Homo sapiens: one gene and its partners. The protein of the gene in region 1 purifies or fractionates together with the protein of each later gene. This does not show direct contact. Each region holds a gene or a part of one and is shown in the gene's direction. Other genes may lie near its edges.

Region 1 (3,500 bases):
AAACATGCTGACTACCCATATACCTTTCACTTACTTTTGGCATTGATAACATTTTGCCACATTTGCTTTCTGTATTTATTAATATACAACTTTTACATATATATGTAGTAAGTTGCAGAAATCATGATACTTCACCATTAAATACTTAACTGTGCATTTCAAATGAGGATTCTTGTAAGTGTATATCTAAATATAAGATCAGATTTGCTTTTTGTAAATAATCATGGTGAGTGTTTTACAATGGTGCTTGATTAATTTTTGTCAGATTAGGTTTTCAGTAAAGTCATTGTTGGAAAAGTTTTCAGACTTAACGATACAGTAGTATATTCAGTGCTGACATGATGGACAGTTTTAGAAAGGTGGATATATGGATAATTTTCTCTCTCTGTTATGTTTTTTCAGTGGCCAGTATTTAGTTTACTAAGTTGTGGCTGAAAGTACATTACGTACTCTAACAAAATTACATCCACTAATGTATATATTTTTACCAGAAACAAATGTACCCCTGAGTTATGGAGGGGGTGAAAAGTCATATGATTCACAAAGTCGCTGTGGCAACACCAAAACAGATGACCTAGAAATGATTGTGGTTTTAAGAAAGCACCCATTGCAAGCTCATTTTTAACTCTCATCTTTCCTCCTTTTTTTTTTAATATAATACTGCTGTGACCACTTAATGTTAGGTAGATACAAAAAAGTTTTACCTTATTTTTAAAATAATGAATTATCTGAATAGATTTGAATCATTGGCTAAAACTGTTGTTAATTTTAACATTGGGTAATGAACAGAATGCTATCATTATATATTTTTTAAAATTTTTTCTAAGTGAATTGCCTTCAAGTTTATATTTAGTTGGAAACATGCACCTAATTCAGGATTTATGTATGTATGTATGTATGTATTTATTTAGAGACAGAGTCTGGCTCTGTTGCCCAGGCTGGAGTGTAGTGGCATGATCTCCGCTCACTGCAACCTCTGCCTCCCGGGTTCAAGCGATTCTCCTGCCTCAACCTCCCAAGTAGCTGGGATTACAGGCACCTGCCACCACGCCCGATTAATTTTTGTGTTTTTAGTAGAGACAGGGTTTCATTCACCATGTTGGCCAGGCTGGTCTCAAACTCCTGATCTCAGGTGATCGGCCCGCCTTGGCCTCCCAAAGTGCTGGGATTACAGGCGTGAGGCACTGTGCCGGGCCATGATTTATTTGTTTTAAATGAAGTGTCTGGCTACTTTACCCAGGGTATACTGAAGAGTATGCGTTTCTTAGAAAATAGCTCAAGGGGTATAGACGCATGAAAAGGTGGAAAACATGTTTTCCATTTAACTCCTAAGGTTTTCTTGTTATTTTGGTTTTATTTTAATAGTACTGACAAATACTACCTTGATTAGAAAGTTTGAACTATAATTCCATTTACCAGGGCTAATTTCTCCATCATTACAAAGTTTATTGTAGCTGACATTACTTTTATGTTATATTTAATCAATTTATCCTAAATTAAAAAAAAATTCAGAGTCATTGAGAGCATCAGCTCACTCATCAGTAGGCCTTTCTTGAGAGTAACTCTTTGACAATTGTCTTCAGTGATACAAAGGTTTTTGACAACAACTTTTATGATTGCTTTTAGGCCTTTTCTCTCGTGACCCTTTCTTAGTAGTTGAGAGTGTTGCCTTAAAGTCAAGATTTGTTAACTTTTTGGCCATTATTTGAATTTAAGATGGTAAATATCATCTGATTTTGTCTGATAAGGAATCATATGGGGTTTTAAAAGGCAATGGGTGTTAAATGCACTGACTTTTAATAGGTAATAAAATATTTTTAAGCTTTATGTCAGTGTGACAGTCGTGTTTTTCCAAAGTAAATTTATTTAAATAAGTATTTGGAGAATAACGTTGGACTTTTTGAAACTCAGGTTTCTCTTAAGTTTTTTGAAGTTGTTTTTATTCATTTTTAGAATGGATATAAGTTCAGATTTATTTCTCTACCATTAAATAGTCATTGTATAATTTTAGATGAGTTTCTTTAGTCACACCCTGAGGTTTTGAATATTGTAGACCACTAAACAGCACGTTTCTTAGTAACACACCTAATAGATTTTTCTTCTTATTTTAGTGGGTTTTAAAAAAAATTTGTGGGTACATAATAGGTGTCTATATTTATGGGGTACATGGGATGTTTTGGTACAGGCATGTAATGTGAAATAATCATATCATGAAGAATTAGGTATTCATCCCCTCAAGCATTTATCCTTTGAGTTACAAACATTCCAATTACATTATTTAAGTTATTTTAAAATATACAATTAAGTTATTATTGACTATAGTCACCCTATTGTGCTATCAAATAGTAGGTCTTATTCTATTTTTTTGTACCCATTAACCATCCCCACCTCCCACTCAACCCCCCATTACCCTTCCCAGCCTCTGGTAACCATCCTTCTGTTATGTCCATGAATTCAGTTGATTTGATGTTCAGATCCCACAAGTAAGTGAGAACATGTGATGTTTGTTTTTCTGTGCCTGCCTTATTTCGGTTAACATAATGATCTCCAATTCTATCCCTGTTGTTGCAAATGACTGGGTCTGTTTTTTTATGGCTGACGAGTACTCCATTGTGTGTATGTACCACATTTTCATTATCCATTCATCTGTTGATGGACACTTAGGTTGCCTCCAAATGTTAGCTATTGTAAACAGTGCTGCAACAAACATAGGAGTGCAGATCTCTTCGATACACTGATTTCCTTTATTTTGGATATATACCCAGCAGTGGAATTGCTCGATCATATGGTAGCTCTATTTTTAGTTTTTTGGGGGACCTCCAAACTGTTCTCCGTAGTGGTTGTACATTCCCACCAATGGTGAACAAGGGTTCCCTTTTCTTTACATCCTCACCAGCATTTGTTACTGCCTGACTTTTGGATAAAAGGCATTTTAACTGGGACAAGATGATATCTCATTGAGTTTTGGATATCTGATGATTAGTGATGTTGAGAACCTTTTCACCATTTGTGTGTCTTCTTTTGAGGAATGTCTATTCAGATCTTTTGCCCATTTTTTATCAGATTATTAGGTTTTTTCCTGTAGAGTTGTTTGAGCTCCTTATATTCTGGTTATTAGTCCCCTGTCAGAGGGGTAGTTTGCAAATGTTTTCTCTCGTTCTGTGGGTTGTCTCTTCACTTTGTTGATTACTTCCTTTGCTGTGCAGAAGCTTTTTAACTTGATGTGATCCCATTTGTCCATGTTTGCTTTGGTTGCCTGTGCTTGTGGGCTATTGCTCAAGAAATATTTGCTCAGACTAATGTCCTGGAGATTTTCCCCAGTGTTTTCTTGTATTAGATTCAGTTTGAAGTATTTAATGCATTTTGATTTGAATTTTGTATATGGCAAGAGATAGGGGTCTGGTTTCATGATTTTGCATGTGTTTATCCAGTTTCCCAGCACCATTTATTAAAGAGACTTGTCTTTTCCCAGTGTATGTTCTTGGCACCTTTGTCAAAAA
Region 2 (3,500 bases), on another chromosome or scaffold:
ATGTAGAAGTTAGATTCTCAGAAATAATTTGAGATTGACAAAAGGACAGTGAATAAACAAACTTTAAAAATTATAAAGTGTGGTCCCCAGTTTAATAATCAGGAGGAGCAATAATAGAAATCCAACTTTGATTTCAGTTTTATGTAATCTTCCCTCAGCTTCATATACTTTTCTTTTTGAAACATACCATTTTAGAGAGTTTTTTAAAAATTTATATTTTCACTTCAAAACATTGCAACAACCCAGAGTTATTTTTGTTTCTATAAAAATTAATTGAAACTTTATAAGTTTATAAGCCTATCTGCAGATAGTTCTAAGTAGTTCATTCCTCATACGCCAAGCATTGTGCTATGATCAGAGAACACATGGTTAGCAAATAGACATACATGGTCTTGATTTCCATGAGATTATACTCTAGCTAGGAAGACATGATCTATTTGAACTGTGGTATGAGCAGTGATGAAAAGTAGAGGATACTATGGAACATCTCACAGGAGATTCTACTCTGGTTTGATGGTAGTGGTTTTGCTGGGGGATGGGGATGGTCCAGGAACGTTTCTTTGAGGAGGTAAGCTTTGAGCTGAGATCAGAGTGAGTAAACAAAGGAGAAGGAATATTCCAGGCAAATAGAATTACATATAGACAGGACCCTGAGCTGAACAGTTGGTGTTTTTCAAACTGTAGGGTCATGACCTATTATGTGTATGAAACCAAGTTGGTGAGTTGCACCCAGCATTTTTAAAAATGAAATGGGATGGAATTTTTAAAAACTCACATACATCCCATGGAGCCTTACCCAGAAGCATGCCACACACAAACATAATACACTTAACATGTATTATTATGTAAAATTATTTCCTGGTGAGAGTCATCGTAAACAAATACTGTTGGAAGAATGAGAAGGAGGTGTGTGTGGCAGGAGTGTTGAGAGCCAGCAGGTGTGTCTCCATATGACATTGCACAGGTAGGTAGGAGCCAGATCTCATGTTGAGCCTTGTAGAGCATGATAGCTTCTCACTTATACTTTGGAAGGGTTTTCAGTAGAGAAATGACATTATGAGATTTATGTTTGAAATGTTCACTCACTACATTTGTGATGAGACAAGAATGGATGCAGATAGATCATTAGGAAAGTAGTATAGTAGCTCAGAAAAGAAATGATGGTAATTCACTAGTGTGGTAGCAGTAGAGAGAAGTGGGTTGATTAGAGAACCCTGTAGATCAGAAAGAAAAATGAACTATGGAGTTGGGTGAGATATAGGAAGGAGTAAATGATACAATAATGTATCTTACATATGACTAGAAACGGATATTACATAAAACTTCCTAGTGGGCCAGGCATGGTGGCTCATGCTTGTAATCCCAGCATTTAGCTAGGCTGAGGTAGGAGGATCACTTGAGCCCAGGAGTTTGAGACCAACCTGGGCAACATAGTGAAACTGTATCTCTACAAAAAAAAAATTTTTTTTTTAGCTAGCTAGGTGTGGTGTTGTGCCCCTGGAGTCCCAGCTACATGGGTGGCTTTGGCGGGCAGATGGCCCGAGCCCAGGAGTTTGAGGCTGCAGTGAGCTATAATCACACCACTGCACTCCAACCTGGGTGATAGCGTGAGACCCAGACTCAACCCTTCCCCCCTCCAAAAAAAAAAAAAACCAAAAAACTTTCTACTGTAAATTTTATAGAAGTCCTTAGTCATCTACCATTTTTAAAGTAGCCAAATATTCAAGACAAAATACTTGAAAAAAAGTGTTAATAATAAAGTGTGAGTTAATTTAATTCCTCCGGTTATTTCCTTTTTGATTTCCAGAGATACAAACAAGATTAGAACTTTTAACTCTGGAAAGGTAAAATGAGGGTGAAGAAGAAAATAACTATGATTTTCTTGAGTTCCAGCTATGTGCCAGTATTAGGTGTTTTAACATATGAAGTCTTCTAATTTTGTGATCCCTTTTCATCCTCACACAAGCCTGTAAATAAATTGTACTGGTCACATATCTAGAAAATACTAGAGCCAGGATTCAAATCTAAATTCTTCTCATACCAAAAGATTACCTTTTTACTACCATCCTGAGATTATCAAAAATATTGCTCTGATGATCACACGTGTTTATTTAACCAGTCAGAGTATGTCAGATTAGTGGGCACCCTTGTAACTTATTTTCAACAAAGAAATATCCTTGATGAGACTTGGTAATCCAGGATGTGTTGTGTGTGTGTGTCTGTGTATATGTATGTATATGCATTATTAGGAAAAACTAACTGTAATTGAACTTCTATGTTCTCGACACTTCTGTATCATCGCGTCATGTAATCCCTACAATCTCATGAGATAGGTGTTGTCAGGATGTTACTCCCATTTTATAAATGAGCATACTGAAGTAAAGAGATGAATAGATCATACAATAAGTGACAGAGGAGGATTTTAAGAACAGGTATTTCTTTTTTCAAAGCCCATATCTCATCTTTATTTTTGAAGGTGATGTCATGGAAGGAGAATATGACCTTCTACTAAGTGATGTTTCAGAACAACTTTTACAATTAAATAAAATTCTATACCCTAGGAATCAAGAGGAAGTTATTAAGAGCATGGATTTTGGCATCAAGGCAGATACAGGTTTAAGTCCTAGTTCATTATCAGTTGAGAGCTTAAGGCAAATTTTTAACCTCTAAACCTCAGGTTCCTCATTTGTGAAATGTAAAGAACAGTAGTTTGCATGTCAGAGTTGTCGGAATTACTGGTATTTAATAAATGGAAACTGCTATTATCAATAATACAGTGATTGATTATTGATTTTTGATTTTTAAAAATTTAAAAATAGGATACCAAGGTGAGCTGTGGGCTGTTTGTGAAAATCTAGTGTAATATTTCCCTGGCTGATTTAGTTTTTGTGTTTCTTTCTCTCTCCTCGCTTGTTTTTGTTTTGTTTCTTGCCCCCTTAAGGATTTCAGTTTTTCTGACTGTTACATGAAAGGATGATTGCTCACAAACAGAAAAAGACAAAGAAAAAACGTGCTTGGGCATCAGGTCAACTCTCTACTGATATTACAACTTCTGAAATGGGGCTCAAGTCCTTAAGTTCCAACTCTATTTTTGATCCGGATTACATCAAGGAGTTGGTGAATGATATCAGGAAGTTCTCCCACATGTTACTATATTTGAAAGAAGCCATATTTTCAGGTTTGTCACTTTTCTATTAGCATTCTTGCTGGATAGTTTGTAAAATTTTAAATGCTGGCCTAGCAGATAAGTTTGTACACAGTGGTAGGAACAGGGTATTCTGCTTTAGTTATTTTAGTGCTTTTTTCCCCAAATCTTTGATGGTTACAGTGTAAACTATTTTATAATCAGATAATAGTGTAATACCTAATAGAAACTTCAGTGTGAGGGAATAAGAATACAAAAAAGAAAAATATCTTTGATTCCTGTGGTTGGGTCCATTTGACGTAGGAAAATTTGACATCATTGGAATTTTAACCTTTCTGTTAATGGTAACACAGTG
Region 3 (3,500 bases), on another chromosome or scaffold:
TATTGAAAAGCAATCAGGGAAAAGTGTCTAAAGATGCACACAGTTATGGGATCATTCTGTATAGACTGCTGCGTCTATCATTATGATTTCTTAATATCCATTAGCCACTGTTGTGTCTACCACAAACCTCAAACAGGTTATCAACTTTCTTTTCATTCAACTGCCATGAAGAAGAGGTGGATGAATTTTAAATTTGCTGACGTCATGAACTTAGATCTCAAAGAGAGAACACTAGGAAATTTCTGTAGTTCACTTTCAATGATCAATGGTAATACATGTTCAGATAATAACTTTAAAATACTGTTATATCCCTGGTTCTTAGAAGACAATGCCACTAACCCATTTTAGAAAGATTTGTCACAGCAGCGATTCTAATTTAAAAGAGGCTTCTTGGTAAATTAAAGATTTAATTGCAAATCTGTTGGATGCTTACTTATAATCTATTACTTGGTACTTAATTTTTGAGCTGGTGACAACCAGAGATTTACATTTTATATATATAAAGCTTCACAATATTTACATGCATTTTTTCCCTCTCACCTTTATTACTTTCTGTAATGATGCCTTTGTTGTCAATGAAAAGCAATAAAAGAAAGAATCAAATTTGTGACACTCATTCACTGTTTGCAGAAATTGTTACAATCTGTTTAAAATATGTTTTAGGTTGACAAATTTGATTTGGTTGATCAATATATTATGTATTAATAAGTATTAATAAGCTATTTATATGAATTAATACCCCAGTATTAATATATAGCCTATGCATTAATATAATTAATAATCAATATGAATTAATTCAGGTAAATCATTAGTTATTCAATACACCATATATTACATATAATATACCTTAATAATAATATTGATTGTTATTATATATTAATATGTACATAAGATATTAATCAACCAAGCCAATTGTCAATCTAAGATGTAATTTAAACAGATAACAAGAATCTTCAAGCACTTTTTATCATCACAATGAAAAGGATGCTCTCATATAAATTTTAAGTTTCTGTGAAAAAATAATTTCTATATACCATTTTATTAATACATATAGTATACTTAGAAAAGTAGTAGGAGTAGGAAAATGCAATTTTTTAATACTTAGAAAAAGAACAGGTATTGTATGAAGCTATTTAGATAATATCTACTCTTCTTTTTCACTTACCAATTTTGCCTCCTATGTCAAGAAATGCAGATGTTAATGTCAATCAGGAATTGTTGGTCACTGAGCAGTATGCATTTATTCCTTCGCTAATTCAGTCAGTTTTAATTAATAACAGCTACATGCTAGGTACTGTGCTACATTTAGGGCATACCTGGGTGAATAAAGCAGGTATAGTTCATTCCGTCTTAGTGGAGACAGATAATAAGTATACAAACAAACAGATAATAAATTATAAAAGAAAGCAAATGGGCTTCAATGATAGAGAATAACATGCAAAGGCGGAGAATGGGAAGGGCTCTCTGAGGCATAGAATTGAAGCACAGATGTGACGGATAAAAAGCCATCTACGGGAGGCGGTAAGTAGAGTGAGAATGGCAAGGCTCACGCTAGAGTTCCAGGCAGAGAGTGGCATTCGTTAATGAGCCTGCAAAGAAGCAACTAAGAAACTAGATGGAAAACCAGGTATTAGGGTGATGTTGTGGGAGCAAAGGAGGGAAAGTGGTTCTAGAGGAAAGAGGTTGAATAAGATGACGACGGAAAAGTGATTACTACATTTGGAAATTTGGAGATCATGAATGATCTTGATTAGTGCAGGTTCAATGGAGTGGTGGGAGTAGACAGAAGAAGGAAGAAGGAATTTACAAATGGGATGGGAGGAATGCGTGATGAGGATAGCTGGCTCCTGGATACAGGGTAAGCAAATAACCCTTCAGAGAAGTCTGTCAGTGAAACACAGCAACCAAATGGAGACATAGCAGGGAAAAGGAATATGGAGTCGACAGACAGACTGTAACAAGTTTGCCAATTAGATTATCCAGTTGAAAGTAAAATTTGGGCCAGGCTCAGTGGCTCACTCCTGTAATCACAGCACTTTGGGAGGCCGAGGCAGGCGGATCACGAGGTCAGGAGATCAAGACCATCCTGGCTCACACGGTGAAACCCCATCTGTACTAAAAAAAAAAAAATACAAAAAATTAGCCGGGCGTGGTGGCGGGCGCCTGTAGTCCCAGCTACTTGGAAGGCTGAGGCAGGAGAATGGCGTGAACCCAGGAGGCGGAGCTTGCAGTGAGCCGAGATCGCGCCACTGCACTCCAGCCTGGGCGACAGAGAGAGACTCCGTCTCAAAAAAAAAAAAAAAAGAAAAAGAAAAGAAAAAAAGAAAATAAAGGAAAGTAAAATTTGATGATTCAGGAAAGAGAGACGTGACCATCAAAAATAAAGTCCTTGAGGAGAGGGATTTTGCATCCAGAGAGCCATGGTGGTGCCAGGTCTGTAACAGTAGGAGGAACATTGCCTCCTTTGTGGCAGGGAGAAGGGGAACCCAAGTGCACCTGCAGGGAAATACGCAGATTTGATGGTGGGAAGATGAGAAACTTCCCTCTGGTGCTTTCTGCTTTCTCAGTGAAGGAAGATGAGGTCGCCTGCTAAGAGTGGGAGTTGGGGTGGGGTGAGAAACTTGAGTGAGAGAAGGGAATAAAGTGACTTTTTCCGGTGGGAATACAAGTCCACCAAAGAAATTTAGAAAGATGTCTTGTAGTGTAGAGAACCTCTGTGGGTTTTGAGAATATGGACTTAAATTAAAACTAGCCTTCCAGGGTATGTTGTTTTTCTGCAACATGTTTAAATGCTAAGAGCAAAGAAGCTAGATGGTTTCTCTAGAGTGGGAGTTTTTAAAGACAGAAAGAAAAATTGTTTTTAAAGACAGAAAGAAAAATCCATAAAATGGATAACCAGTGCACTAAGCAAAACAAAATAAAAAACAACCCAAACCAAAACCAAATCTAAACAAAAATTCATAAAAATGAATGAGTCTGTAGAACAGAGTTCCTTTATCTAAGGTAATTAGTGACTACTAGGAAGTAGTCCAAAATTGGCTGATTTCCAGCTCTAGTAGGTGGGAATTTAGCCTTTGTTCTTTCCCAACTCTTGGATTCATTACCTAGCCAGTTGCTAGGCCTCTTTGTACACTTCAGTGAAGCCCAGTTACCTGTTCCAGGAGCCATCATTCTGGAACCTTTTTTTTCTTCATGTTCTAGTTGGTAGACTTGTTGCTGTTGTCCTTTGAAGTTCTGAATGATTAACTGTTTGCCTCCCTGCTTTTATTGGACTCCTAGCTAAGTACTTGTTTCTGAGTTGTAGCATACTCCTTGGTCTTTGTGCTCCCTAAGATAAGGGTTTATAGACTTCGAATCATTAGAATTCCACAATGTAAAGATGTGTAAAACATTTTGTGATAATAATAGACCATCCAAAAAAAGGATCTTTCACAGCCCTGCTCTCAGGATGTATTTCTTCACCCTGACATAAATCTTTCATTTTGCATCTAAAAGTCACT
Region 4 (3,500 bases), on another chromosome or scaffold:
AACTCTGGAAATTCTGAGCTGTCATTTTCCACATGCGAGGAGCAGGTTACAGACCCAGGTGCACATGTTGGTCCTGGGTTGAGGGTGCCAGGTGCTTCCTTGCCCCGGGAGAAGCACCTGAGTCTCCAGGCGGGCCTCTGACCGCCGTGACTGAGCATTTGGGCCACCCCGGGAGCCCAGCCCTGTCCTGTGTCTCTCCTGCCTGGTGAGCAGCGGTGAGGTGCGGGTGCATCCAGCCGAGGTGCAGAGCCCAGGTTTGCAGCAGGGTTTCTCCCGCCGCCCCTGATGAGACACAGACTAGCAAGGACTGTCTGTCCCAGCCGGGATTTGTCACTCTGCCTCCCTCCGTTAGAGAGTGGAGAGGCCTGGAAGGTCCCCGCGGCCTGGGTCTTGCAGATGGCACCAGCAAAGGCCACCGGCCACTCCCCGCTGCCGTCACCTGTCACACAGCAGCAGTCCCGCGGCTCTTCCCGCGAGGCCCTTCACGTGCCGCCGAAGGCCGGGCTCCCTAGACTTCATGGTCGTGTTTGCATATTCTGTTGCTGTGATCTGAGACGGCCCCTCTCAGAAGCGGGTGCCACAACCCGCTGGTGGGATGAGTGGGTCACCCAGGTGCAGGTCCCTTGGTGTGTGGAGGGTGGGGTAGGCTCCTTGTAACTGCAGTGTGGCTGACGGGATGTGCCATCCTGTTTAGCTGAGAATTTGGGGTCAGCGGGCTTAGTGCCAGGAAGGCTGTGGCCAAGTGCCATGTCTGCTTCAGGACAAAGGTGTGGATTTGTTTCCCTGAGAGGGGGTTTATGTGGAGCGTGGTACGGGAGGCACACGTGCTGCTGGCTTGTCGGCACACAGGTGGGCGGGTGGATGTGAGTGGGCGCGGCTTGGCAGTAGCTCCCATTTTACATGTCAGTTGCTCCTGGGCAGAGCCTGGGTGCAGGGATGCAGGAGGAGGGCTTCACTCTCGCTGGCTGTACCTTGGGAGCTTCAGCCACATGGGTGGAAGGGGCATGTGTTTGTCAAAATTCATCAAAATGTTCAAACCTCGGATCTTTGTATTTTGTGCTTTGTAAGTTACAGCTCAGTAAAAAATGATAGCAAAAAGGACACCCACTCTTAGGCCCAGCAGTTCTACTTCTGGGAATTTATCGTGTAGGTCGAGTTGATCAAAAAAAGGTGTAAACGTGCTCAGATGCATATTGCCACCGTTACCCAAGAGCTGGCGCAGTACCAGTTCACGAGCAGGCGGGGGTGCTGGGCCTGAGCTCAGGGCGTGCGGGTGGGAGCAGCGCCAAGTGCCTCCACCCCCTTGACCCCGCCCGCGAGGCATGAGCGGCACCGTGGACACGTCTGTAGACGCTGAGGAAACTGACTGTCAGGGCGGCTCCTAGAGGGGCCTAGAGCAGGGCGAGCGCGCGTCCTGACTCATCCCCTAGAGCACTCGCTCGTTCTTTTGTTTTGTTTTTTGAGACACGGTCTGGCTCTGTCGCCAGGCTGGAGTGCCGTGGCGCGATCTCGGCTCACTGCAACCTCCGCCTCCCGGGTTCACGCCATTCTCCTGCCTCAGGCTCCCGAGTAGCTAGAACTAGGTGTGCACCACCGCGTCCAGCTAATTTTTGTATTTTTAGTAGAGACGGGGTTTCACCATGTTGGCCAGGATGGTCTCCATCTCTTGACCTCGTGATCCGCCTGCCTCGGCCTCCCAAAGTGCTGGGATCGCAGGCGTGAGCCACGGCGCCTGGCCGAAGTCGCTAGTTTTTTAAAAATCAGATCAGTTTTAGAAAACAGAAGGCAGTGGAAGAGTCTGTTTGTCCCGTGCTCTGCCCCTTGAGACACGCAGCTGAGGGTGCTTAGGGTGCCGTTCGTTAGGCGGCTGCTGGTCACCGAGAGTCTCCTTTTGGTTTCTCACTCCGTGGTCATTTGGGTCCCTGCGGCCTCACTGTGACCCACGCCGGAGCAAGCCTCCGGGTCCTCCTGTGCCATCGCCCCTGCCCGTAACCCCTACTCCTCAGACATGGCCATCCCAGGAAGTGGGGGCCCGCTCAGGGCAGCAGCCGGGAGGTGTGGCCAGGGCCCCCCGCGTCACAGCACACTTGGAGCCTGAGGCAGCCCATCAGCCGGGAGGCGGGCCTTCTGCTCTCTTTCTAGAGTTTTCAGTGTCATGCGAATAGGGGTGTTTGCCACAGAAAACAGGTCAGCATCAAAAGTTACCCCTCTCCAGCCTTTTAGCATTTGTTTTATGTCCATATAAACTTCTTCAGTGTAATGTGTTGTGTGTTCATACTTTTATTTTTTAAAAATCATGCTGGGCCGGGCGCGGTGGCTCACGCCTGTCATCCCAGCACTTTGGGAGGCCGAGGTGGGCAGATCGGGAGGTCAGGAGATCAAGACCATCCTGGCTAACACGGTGAAACCCTGTCTCTACTAAAAAAAAATACAAAAAAATTAGCCGGGCATGGTGGCGGGCGCCTGTAGTCCCAGCTACTCAGGAGACTGAGGCAGGAGAATGGCGTGAACCCGGAAGCGGAGATCGTGCGGCTGCACTCCAGCCTGGGCGACAGAGTGAGACTCCGTCTCAAAAAAAAAAAAAAAAGAAATCATGCTGGGCTGGGCACAGTGGCTCACACCTCTGATCCCAGCACTTTAGGAAGTTGAGGCAGGAGGATCACTTGAGGCCAGGGGTTCAAGACCAGCCTGGGCAACATAGCAAGATCCCATCTCTAAAAAATGTTTAAAAAAACTTAGCCAGATGTGGTGGTTCACACCTGTATTCCCAGCCACTCAGGAAGCTGAGGCTCAGAATATCAGGCTGCAGTGAGCCATGATCGTGCCACTGCATGAACCCCAGCCTGGCTGACAGAGTGAGACCCTGTTTCAAAAAAAAAGAAAATGCCATCCGCAGTGCTGGGACCTGCGTTCTTACCTCACCTGGGTTGCACATCTCTCCTTGGCCAGCATGCACGCTTTTACATGCACTGCTGCTGTCTTCAGCATCTGCACGGTACATTTCACTGCCGCTTACTCAGCTGTCCCCTGAGGCTGGACATTTAATTTGTGTCTGGCTTGTCGTTGTTATCAGCGCCACTGTGACACACATCCTCAGTTACTTCTGAGTTGTGGGCTTGCCATGCGGGAGGTTGCCATGCGGGAGGTTGCCACTAGGGAGAGTGGGCTGTGTTGTACGCTTTGGTGGCCCACTCCCCAGTCTCTCCACCTCCCCCAGCAGCAAATGAGCCAGCCCCAGTCCCTGTGCCCCAACCTCCAGGGTTAACCCCTGGGTGTGCATTTGTTTATTCTGAATCTTATCATTTATCGCCCACCAGACTGACTTGGCCATCTCTGGCCTCGAAGGGTCTCCCTCAGCGAGAGGTGTCCTTCCTGAGCTGTCGCTCCATCCTGAGCAAGGCCTTCGCCCTGGGAGCTTAGTAATGTCAACCTTGTTCTAAACAGGACCTGGGGCTACACTTCAGTCTTCCAGATATCGAAAGATGGTTCTAAGAGGCTCT
Region 5 (2,582 bases), on another chromosome or scaffold:
GGGAGGCCAAAGTGGGCAGATCACCTGAGGTCAGGAGTTCGAGACCAGCTTGGCCAACATGGTGAAACCCTGTCTCTACTAAAAATACAAAAATTAGCCAGGGCTGGTAGCACGCACCTGTAATCCCAGCTACTCAGGAGGCTGAGGCAGAAGAATCACTTGAACCTGGGAGGCGGAGGTTGCAGTGAGCCACGTTCGCACCATTGCACTCCAGCCTGGGCAACAGAGTGAGACTCTGTCTCTTAGAAAAAAAAAAAAAAGGGAAACAAGGCACAGGTAGTCTTCTCCAAAGAAACGCCAGGATTCTCCAAGGCATTCTGAGTAAAACTCCAAGGGTGAGAACACCTGAATTTACTGTTTAGGTCTGAACGGCTACTTGATGCTGAGTTGCCAGGTAGCTGAGCAAGCTGCAGGAGGTGGGCAGAATGGCACTGGGCCTCAGTCGTGACCATGAGCCAGTCTGATAACTGCCATACATTCAAGGTAGTACATTCAGGCTGTATTTCGGACCTCTGGATCCGTGCAATGATATGTACATATCTACTTTTCTCCTTGTGATAAAATCACACATACTGCTAATGGCACTGTGGTTCCTTGATGACATTCATAACAGAAGGAATGCTGAATTTCAATTAGAGGTTAGTAATAAAGATGCATATTTTTCCCCTGCCTGAGTCCACAGACTCACTGAATGCTATCCACAGATCCCTCTGGGTCTATGGACCCCAGGATAAAACTGCTGTGTTAAACGTTAACTGGACAAAATCCTCTGACTCCACTGAAATTTATATATACAATAATCTGGGATCTTGAATTGCAAAGCACTCAAGTTAAAAAGAAATTTACATTCAAGATGTTATTTGCTTATCTAACAGCCAGGTTTGGTAGTTAATTGTTTCCACCTCATACCTGAGGAAAGTGAGAGTGAGAGGCCTCTCATCACCAAAGGTCACCAAGTCAGAGAGGAGCACAGATGGGGCTTGGTCACAGCTCTGACAACAAGGCCTGACATTGGCTCCTACACGCAAGTGGCCAGGCTGCTGTCTCACCAGGTCTCAGAGTAAACGTGATTGCAGGTCGATTCCTGAAACCTCTGGCTGGTGACTAAGGCAAGCCTGCTCCTCAGCTGGACAGCTGCCCTGGATGAGCTCTCCTTGCCCTGTGGATTCACTTGCATCCCTATCTCCTCCTGAGCTTCTCCACACTGCTAAGGCAGGAGTTTGAGGGCATTGGAAGGGAAAACCTTCTGACCTAGACTTTGGCTCCTGAAATGATACTACAACAGTAGACTCCCCCTTGCCCTAGGCCCACCTCCACCCCCACTCTTCTCCTCCGGCTTTTCCCTCTCCTATTTTTCCCTCCCTTACCCATTCCCCAAAATAACAATGAATTCCCCCTCCCACCTTCTCCTCACCAGGTTAAAACTTACCTCATTAGCAGCATCCCTCTACAAGGTGCATTTAACTATAAGTATACTGCCTGCCTATGTGACGACAATCCAAAAACCTTCTACTGGGACTTTTACACCAACAGTAAGTACAGAAGTTGTCCAAGGAGGGAACTACCCACCAGCCACCAGGGAGGAGAAACTATAAACAGAAACATGGCTGCGAACCGAGCAGGACCAGGACCTCAGGGCAGAAGGACAGAAGGGAGGGAGGGAAGAGCATGGGGAGAGCAGATGGGGAAAGCACCCAGGTTCTAAGACAGAGGCATTGAGTGCAAAAAGTTGATACAGGAGACAAATTTGCAAAGGATTTGGGGAAACTGAACCCCAGGGGGCAGATGCCTGATATGAGTAGAAAAGACAGGACATGGCCGGGGTGTCTGAGAGATGATCTCCGTCCCTGTCTTTTTCAGGAACTGTGCAAATTGCAGCCGTCGTTGATGTTATTCGGGAATTAGGCATCTGCCCTGATGATGCTGCTGTAATCCCCATCAAAAACAACCGGTTTTATACTATTGAAATCCTAAAGGTAGAATAATGGAAGCCCTGTCTGTTTGCCACACCCAGGTGATTTCCTCTAAAGAAACTTGGCTGGAATTTCTGCTGTGGTCTATAAAATAAACTTCTTAACATGCTTCTCCATGTTCTGTTGTATCTCCAAAATCTGCTCCTGAAGAACCCCAGATTACCTGAAATTTCTAGAACATTTGTCTTTCAAAGAACCTTTACTGAGGAGATTGTACGGGTTCTCACTGCCCATTGGTATGAAGAGGGAGAGAAGAAGAAACTGGGAAGAGGAGCTATGCTCACAGAGAGGAAAAGCAGTGGCCCTAAAGTTCACGGCACAGGAGTGGCAGAGCCAGGGCAGGCACCAAGCCTCCCTGTTGCTTGACCTCTCTCCATCCCACTGCCCTCCAGCAACAGCTCAGATCCCAGAAGACAGGAGTCCTGTTGCATGCAGCAGAGTCAGGGATGGAGTCCATGGCCCCCTAAATGAGCAGTAGCATTCTATGCTATTCTGTTGCTTGTTTTCAATGGATTGTGACACTCAGGGATATCAGGGTCCTGTGCAGCTCTGCCTGAGGAGCTCAGGCATAATAGAGGAGTAAAGGGGCAGAGGGAGCCCTGAGGGGCT
Region 6 (3,500 bases), on another chromosome or scaffold:
TCTGTAATCAGTCAGCATTTTCTTTATTAGGCAGTTTTGAGATCTATTGTCTGTACTGATGTTATTCCATGTGAATCTTTCTGGAGGTATCTAGTAGCAGGAAATAGCCTTTAAGTTGAAATATCCTAGAATGAACTTGGAGAGAGAAGGTATATGTGTTTCTTTCCTCTTCCCTTTTCTCCCTCTTTCCCACTCTACCCCCACTTTTCTGCCTTCTTCCTTTCTCCTCTTCTACTGCTTTGAACTATAATTTTCATTGCAATTACTCTTAAAATTGCCATGTTTTCTGGACACTTCACATTGTGCTAATTCCTTACAAATCCAATTAACTCATAATGATTATGTCATTAAATTTGATAATTTCATGGAATCTTTGCTCACTTCCAGTTAAAACTTTAAAAATATTGGCCAAAGCCTTTTGAAGAATGTGTTAGTCTTTTAAATCTTTGACATTTGGAAAAACAGAAATCTCAAGGTTTAATTTTTTTCATATATTTATTACATATTGTGCTTTAGTGTTTGTGGCCTTAATCCACCTTTCTTTTAGGGTTGTTTTTACATTTAAAACCACTGATTTAGTGAATACTAGTCATAAAAATTACATTCACCCATTCATTCTCCGCCTTCAGAAATTACTGGCTTTTGTTCAGTTCCACCACAAAATCCTTCCAATTATACTTAATAGTTTGAAAATCATACATTTGCAGTTGCAAAAAATGCAAACTCGGAGTTATCCAACGTTCAAAAAAGGCTTGATAAAATATTTGTCTCTCACTAGACTAATTTAGGAGTGTATTTTTTTAGAGTACTTTGTCATTATATCCTTTTTCTAATGTCATGTATTTTTTGCTCAGGAATATGGTATAACTAAAGCTGAAAAACTGGAGATTGCCAAAGGCTACTGTACTCCTCTGGTTAGAAAAATTCGCTCAGACCTTCAGAGGACACAAGATGATGACACTGTAAATAAACTTCATCCTGTGTAAGAAACTGTACTGGTTATTTAAATCTCTAGGCATCTATTTTTGCATACTTCAAATTTAAATTATACTTTGATGGTCCTATGAAGTCAGAAGTGTGTCATTGGCATACTGTGAAAATAGTATTACCTAGGTATTTCTATTAAGTTCCAACCAAAGTTATTTTTGGCTCCACTTTAGAGAAAACTAAGGTGAGTGGGGAAAAGGGAATATAGGTCATCGTTCACATGGACCATCAATGTGTACCCCATTTAGCAGCATTAATGTCTGTGAGCATCTTTAGGTCTATAACCTCTGTCATTGCTACTAAAGGAGATAAAATAACCTATTTACAGTGTACTTGACTAATATTAAGTCTATTCTTTGACTACTCTCAGAGGTCCTAGTTAGTTATAGTTTGTGTCATGTTAGAAGAATATATACTAAGATAAATTCTCTATTGTGGTTGGAAGAATAATAGATTTTTGTGGTCTTTTACTTCTAGTGAAATTACATTTAATTTTAGAAAATAATTTCAATATTTAGTGAGTTTTTGATTATATGGTTATGTTTGAACACTGTCTGCTTCTAATTTTAGGTATTCTAGAGGTGTTCTGTCTCCTGAACGTCATGTTCGTACTAGATTATATTTTACCAGTGAAAGTCATGTACATTCTTTGCTGTCTATTCTTCGCTATGGTGCCTTATGCAATGTAAGTAGAATAAGTTATTTCAGTCTAACAAATATATTTAATTTTGTAATTAAATCACTAACTGCTATTTTTACTGTGAAATTTTAGTAATTCATCCTTAAGTTTTACTACTTAATGTCGTCTTTCAAGGGACTACTATATACCAAGCATTTTGCTAGATTTTAGGGATAAAGATGTTCTCTTCAGAGAAGATACATTTAAGCAAACAATAATATAAAGTATTTTAGGTGATTTTATAGACTGGTGGCAGTAAAGAGTAGCCTGATGAATTTGAGTCATTTAGGGGTCAGAATTGATGGAACTTGGTGTTTGGTTAGACATTGTACCACTGATCTACTATTATGTACTATCTACTATTATCTACTATTACGTAATGACATACCAAGACTTAGTGGCTTAAAACAACCACAGTCATTTCATTTTTATCTCATACAGTTTAGATTGTTGACTAGGATCAATTATGAAGTTTCTCTTAGAGTCTCATGAGGTTGTAGTCAGACAGTGGCTGGGTCTCAAATAATCTCAAGGGTTTTCTCTCATGTTTGGTGCTTCATGTTGGCTGTCAGCTGGGACCTCAGCTGCGGTTATCAAGCAGAACACCTACATCTGGCCTCTTCATGTGGCCTGCTTCCTCAAAATATTGCACCTGAGTTCCAGGAGTGAGCTTCCTATGAGAGCAAGGTGCAAGTGCATGGCATTTTTATGACCTAACTTCTAAAATCATGTAGCATCACTTCTGCTGCGCTCTCTTGGTTGAGGCAATCACAGAGGTTCATCCAGGTTCAGAAGGAGAGGAAACAACCCACAGCACCAGATGGGCTGAGTGTCCCTGTCCTATTGTAAGAAGAGTATGTAGCATTGAATGTGTATGTCAGCCATCTTTGGAAAAGACAAAATCTGCCACAGTGATACCTATTTGCCACAGTAATTTGTATTCTTCCCACATACAAAACTCAATTCACATCTCCCTCAGTGCCACCCCCTCCACTCAGTGCCATGCTGTAATAGAGTAATACTACTTGAAGTCCAGAATCTCATCTAAATCAGTCATCTCTAAACTAGCCAAAAGATAAGAATGTTCTTTTATTTTTCTGTGCGTATATTGGTATACGCATCTGTGCACGTCTGTGTAGAAAGTGATCTATAAAAGAAAACTCAATTTTGTTTTCTTAATGTACTTTTAAAAGAAGGGCAGTGACATATATAGTGATGATTTGGTATAGGTCTGTTTCCTAATCAATCTTATTACTGGTCCTTGAGAGTAATTATTATCAAAGTGATCCTAAGGGTGTTTCAAAGTTCTGTTCCAATTAAAATTCCAAATCCATATGTTCTTTCTTCTGGTTTTTTGTTTCTTCTTTGTCCCACTAAAGAATAGAAAAGTGACATCCTTACATAAGTATGTGGATTAGTGGGAAAAAAAATGACCCTTAATTAGCAAGGCAAAAAAGCTTGTATATCCAGTAGTATTGATGGAATTGTTTGTGAAGAGGAGCGATACATCTCTTACATGGTCCTTTTTGACATACATAGAGGGTATAAAGATCATGAGTAATATAGGAACTGATAGAAAGCCTGTAGTTGGAGAATAGTAGTAAGTATTGGATAAAATGACAGCAGATATGGTTGAAGAGCCAGTGCCTTGTATTCTAATTGGATTGGGAAGCCATTTAAAGGTTTTAAGCAGGGAAATGGGTGGCTTTGGTTATTGTGTGGACAGCAGATAGGTGAAAGTGGGTATGAGGAAACCAGTTAGGAAATTATTACAGTGGTCCAAAAAGATGTCATTTGGACTAGGGTGGTAGCTGTGGATCTAGAGTTTTTTGGG
Region 7 (3,500 bases), on another chromosome or scaffold:
TTCCCCTTCCAAATGCGTGACTGGTCTTCTGACTCCTATGGGGGAAGGGGCTTGCTGGGAGAATGATCAAACGTTTTCAGTCTTGTTGCTGCCGCTGAAAGGGAGTACCCTGGACATCAGTACTAATTTTAGTAGACAGTAGTAACTTTCTTGGCAATTTGCGATTTGTAAATGCAGTCTAATATTGAATTCGTTTTTTGTGCAATCATATTGCTGTTGGCCTGTATTAAACCTGTATTTACATTACCTATGCCTTTTTTTAAAACATAAATTGTTATGAATCTTTGACTTTTTTGACTGGTGTTGGTGGAACTGCCTTTGTGAGCCTTTAATGGAGGGATTTAGCATTTAAATTCCATTGTGTTACATCATTCTGGACCTATGCTGGCTGCCCTTTTACACATTTCTGTGAGTTTGTGCAAATTACTGGTGAACAGTTGAAAGGATGGAACCAAGTACAGACACTTGGACATGTGTGCTGGGCCGCTGGTGTCTGTCTACTTTAGGTTGGCATCAGTTCATTCACTGTCAATCACACCATGCACTCAGGCTTTGTCAAATGGCCTGCTTTTGAAATTATATATTAGAAAAGGTATGGTGTGTGTTCTAATATCTATTTTGAGTTTACAGCAATGGTCTACTTAGTCTATTAAACCATCTGGTTATGGCCAGGGTCACGCCTGTAATCCCAGCATTTTGGGAGGTCGAGGCAGGAGGATTGCCTTAAGGCCAGGAGTTCGAGACCAGCCTGGGCAACATAGGGAGACTCCCTTGTCTACAAAAAATAAAGAAGTTAGCGTGGCATGGTGGCTCATACCTATAGTCCTAGCTACTAGGGAGGCTGAGGCTGGAGGATTGCTTGAGGCTAGGAGTTAATTTGAGGTTGCAGTGAGGCATAATTGAACCATTGCCCTCCAGCTTGGGTGACAGAGCAAGACCCTGTGTCCAAAACAAAAAATATATAGCTTATTTACTTCTTTATTTATTTTGTAGAGACAGGTGTCTTGCTATGTTGCCCAGGCTTGTCTCTAACTCTTGGGCTCAAGCAATCCTTCCAGCTCAGCCTCCCGAAGTGCTGGGATTACAAGCGTGAACCACCATGCCCGGCCTAGTTTATCTTTTTTAAATTATAGAACTGGATTTGTCTCTAGTCACTTGGGATTTGAAAAACTTCCTTCATTAAAACCAGTATCATTTTATGTGGCTTAACAGATTCAAGAGCACTAAACATAATCTCTAGGAACTTTGGAAAGAACAGCAGTTGATATTCAGTATAGTTTGTTTCTGCTGTAACCTTGGTGTGTAATGTACAGTGAACCTGTGTCCCTGGATGACACATCTTTAGAAAATACTACCATTTAAAGTGACAGTGTGCGATACATAAGGCTAAAAGCATTTGCCTATAACCAGTGTTTATCAAGGATGCTAGTGTAGGCCATTTTTAGGAGTATAGATGAGACAAACATCATAAGCCAGGATAAAAGCTTTCTGAGCGTATTCAGGACTTGTGGTTGTAAAGAGCATCTCAATTCCGTCACCTCCCCAACCCCAACTGTTACACACTTGAAATATGGCTAATGTGACTAAGGAACTGAATATTGGTCAACAGAAATGATAGAACTTTTCCATCAGTGCTGAAAGTTCTATTGGACAGTGCTGTGTTAAACTGCTGGCTGCAGTTTAACTATCAACCCCATCGTAAGTTTCTCCAGCAAATTATTATATTTTAATATAGTTTCCTGATAGCTTTATTTTTACTTGGTCATCTCATTGCACCTCCTCCTTCCCATATAGGCTTAATTAATAAAAACTGGGAAGGGGGAAGCAAGTCCTGCTAGATTCTTCTTTGCTGAATTTCCCAAGCACTCAACCTGAGTGACATTTCAGTAGCGTGAGCATCTCTTGCAGTGTGCCTTTATGTCCCATTCAGAAAACACATTGGTTACGGGATGGATGTCTGAGGCCATCCTGGTGAGAACCCAGCTGCAAAATGAGGGTGGAAAACTCAAATACTCTTAAATGTTGGTGGGCTGAAATTTTCCTGACTATACTAAATACTGAACCCATTCTTTAAACTAATAATGGTTTTAGTGTACATACTTTCTGCAGAAGTGAAGAAAGCGATATACTTCCTTCAGCCAAAAGAGAATTCTGGAATTTTGATTTTTTTTCATCAACGGATGGAGTCTAACTATTTAGGTTAATGGAGTTGAGCGAAGAAAGACGGTAGTTTGCTGTAGTCTGCGGTACATTAGATGGGAATTCAGAATCTATTGGAATTTTATTTGTGTTTTGCTTTGACCTAATAGGAGTCCTTTAAGTTCTTTGTTCATAGGTAGCTCATCAATCCCTGACTAGGCAGTGTGCAGATGTTTGTCACTGACATGTAACCCCTGTGGTCTTGATTTTTTTTTTCTTAAGTGATAGCATTTTATCTTCTCCCTCCTTATCATGCCTGTCTGCAGTATACCTTTATAGTGTTGATGTTGAGGAGTTTGGGTAGTACTGAGGAATATATTTTATTATTAGTTTCTTGGCATATTCAGTTTTGTTTCCAAAGATATGATCAATCTCTAATATTTAATAAAGCTAAATCTAGGTGGCAGCAAGTTGAGGTTTAAAAGATTTAGGTTTACCTCTTGCGACTATTGCTAAAAGGAAGACTGTAAAAGATTATGAGAAATACTGGTTTCATCCTTGTTTAGGAATTTGGACTAAATAAAAATGGCTAGAGGGAGTTCCTTTAAGTGAAATGTCTTTCTTCTAGAGAAAAGGTGTAAAATAGTGTTAAATTGATTTGTCGATTTGGGCTGTGTGAAGCAGGGAGGCAGGACTAGATAAGTAAATAGGCAGTCCTGTTTTCTGTACTCTTAAATATACAGACTCTACTTCATCGCTCTCTAAATGTTCCAGATGGAGCCTTTTTTCAATAAAAGCCCCAGGACCTCAGGAATGGTATACCAGTAGTGGGCCTGTCAGTCTTGCTGGGTAGAATTTCACCATTGTGCTTCCTTTTACCACTAGTAGAGTTGGCCTGATGTCCTTCAGACATTAATTAAAGATAGCTGGAGTCCCAGCAGGGCACACAAGGTAAGGCTGGGCCACACGGAGACCCTTCCCTGTCTGCTCCCCATTCTCCTGTAGCTAAAAATAGCCCTGAAAGGGTGGTGCCAGGAATACAGAGAAAAGCTCTAAGAAGTTGGGGCTGTTTGCAAATTCATCCTTATTTTTGAAACCTCTGGGCTAGAAATTGAGGCTGTTCATTCTTTTTGTTTTCACTCCATCTTTAGTTGAACCCATTTCTCCTCTCCCCTGCATTTACCCCCAGCTGTTCTCTAAAAAGACCTCATGTCTCTAAAAAGAGAACAGGTCTGGGGCTTACCCTTTGCCCCAGTTTGTGTTTTCTTAGTGAAAATAAGGTGACCGTTGGTGCTTTCGAAATACACGACTCAGTTCCTTGGTTAAAATATAAATGTGACTGCCCAAGGACAGTCTTGGGC

What was found.
Region 2: the proteins of ANKRD28 (region 1) and ARHGAP29 fractionate together in Homo sapiens (co-fractionation; one large-scale study listed by BioGRID). This does not show direct contact.
Region 3: the proteins of ANKRD28 (region 1) and PLA2G4A fractionate together in Homo sapiens (co-fractionation; one large-scale study listed by BioGRID). This does not show direct contact.
Region 4: the proteins of ANKRD28 (region 1) and RAB40C purify together in Homo sapiens (affinity purification with western blotting; one study listed by BioGRID). This does not show direct contact.
Region 5: the proteins of ANKRD28 (region 1) and PIP purify together in Homo sapiens (co-immunoprecipitation; one large-scale study listed by IntAct). This does not show direct contact.
Region 6: the proteins of ANKRD28 (region 1) and PPIP5K2 purify together in Homo sapiens (affinity purification with mass spectrometry; one large-scale study listed by BioGRID and IntAct). This does not show direct contact.
Region 7: the proteins of ANKRD28 (region 1) and SNX18 purify together in Homo sapiens (affinity purification with mass spectrometry; one large-scale study listed by BioGRID and IntAct). This does not show direct contact.

The regions. Positions count from the first base shown.
Region 1 is NC_000003.12:15,791,480-15,794,979, reverse strand, and holds part of ANKRD28 (serine/threonine-protein phosphatase 6 regulatory ankyrin repeat subunit A), read left to right. Parts: intron 1-3,500. UniProt on the Homo sapiens protein: Regulatory subunit of protein phosphatase 6 (PP6) that may be involved in the recognition of phosphoprotein substrates. Involved in the PP6-mediated dephosphorylation of NFKBIE opposing its degradation in response to TNF-alpha.
Region 2 is NC_000001.11:94,231,085-94,234,584, reverse strand, and holds part of ARHGAP29 (rho GTPase-activating protein 29), read left to right. Parts: intron 1-2,941; 5' UTR 2,942-2,973; coding exon 2,974-3,178; intron 3,179-3,500. UniProt on the Homo sapiens protein: GTPase activator for the Rho-type GTPases by converting them to an inactive GDP-bound state. Has strong activity toward RHOA, and weaker activity toward RAC1 and CDC42. May act as a specific effector of RAP2A to regulate Rho.
Region 3 is NC_000001.11:186,835,449-186,838,948, forward strand, and holds part of PLA2G4A (cytosolic phospholipase A2), read left to right. Parts: intron 1-3,500. UniProt on the Homo sapiens protein: Has primarily calcium-dependent phospholipase and lysophospholipase activities, with a major role in membrane lipid remodeling and biosynthesis of lipid mediators of the inflammatory response.
Region 4 is NC_000016.10:621,066-624,565, forward strand, and holds part of RAB40C (ras-related protein Rab-40C), read left to right. Parts: intron 1-3,500. UniProt on the Homo sapiens protein: RAB40C small GTPase acts as substrate-recognition component of the ECS(RAB40C) E3 ubiquitin ligase complex which mediates the ubiquitination and subsequent proteasomal degradation of target proteins.
Region 5 is NC_000007.14:143,137,658-143,140,239, forward strand, and holds the end of PIP (prolactin-inducible protein precursor), read left to right. Parts: intron 1-1,417; coding exon 1,418-1,532; intron 1,533-1,860; coding exon 1,861-1,985; 3' UTR 1,986-2,082; downstream 2,083-2,582.
Region 6 is NC_000005.10:103,172,301-103,175,800, forward strand, and holds part of PPIP5K2 (inositol hexakisphosphate and diphosphoinositol-pentakisphosphate kinase 2), read left to right. Parts: intron 1-854; coding exon 855-982; intron 983-1,557; coding exon 1,558-1,672; intron 1,673-3,500. UniProt on the Homo sapiens protein: Bifunctional inositol kinase that acts in concert with the IP6K kinases IP6K1, IP6K2 and IP6K3 to synthesize the diphosphate group-containing inositol pyrophosphates diphosphoinositol pentakisphosphate, PP-InsP5, and bis-diphosphoinositol tetrakisphosphate, (PP)2-InsP4.
Region 7 is NC_000005.10:54,520,759-54,524,258, forward strand, and holds part of SNX18 (sorting nexin-18), read left to right. Parts: exon of another isoform or gene 1-288; intron 289-3,500.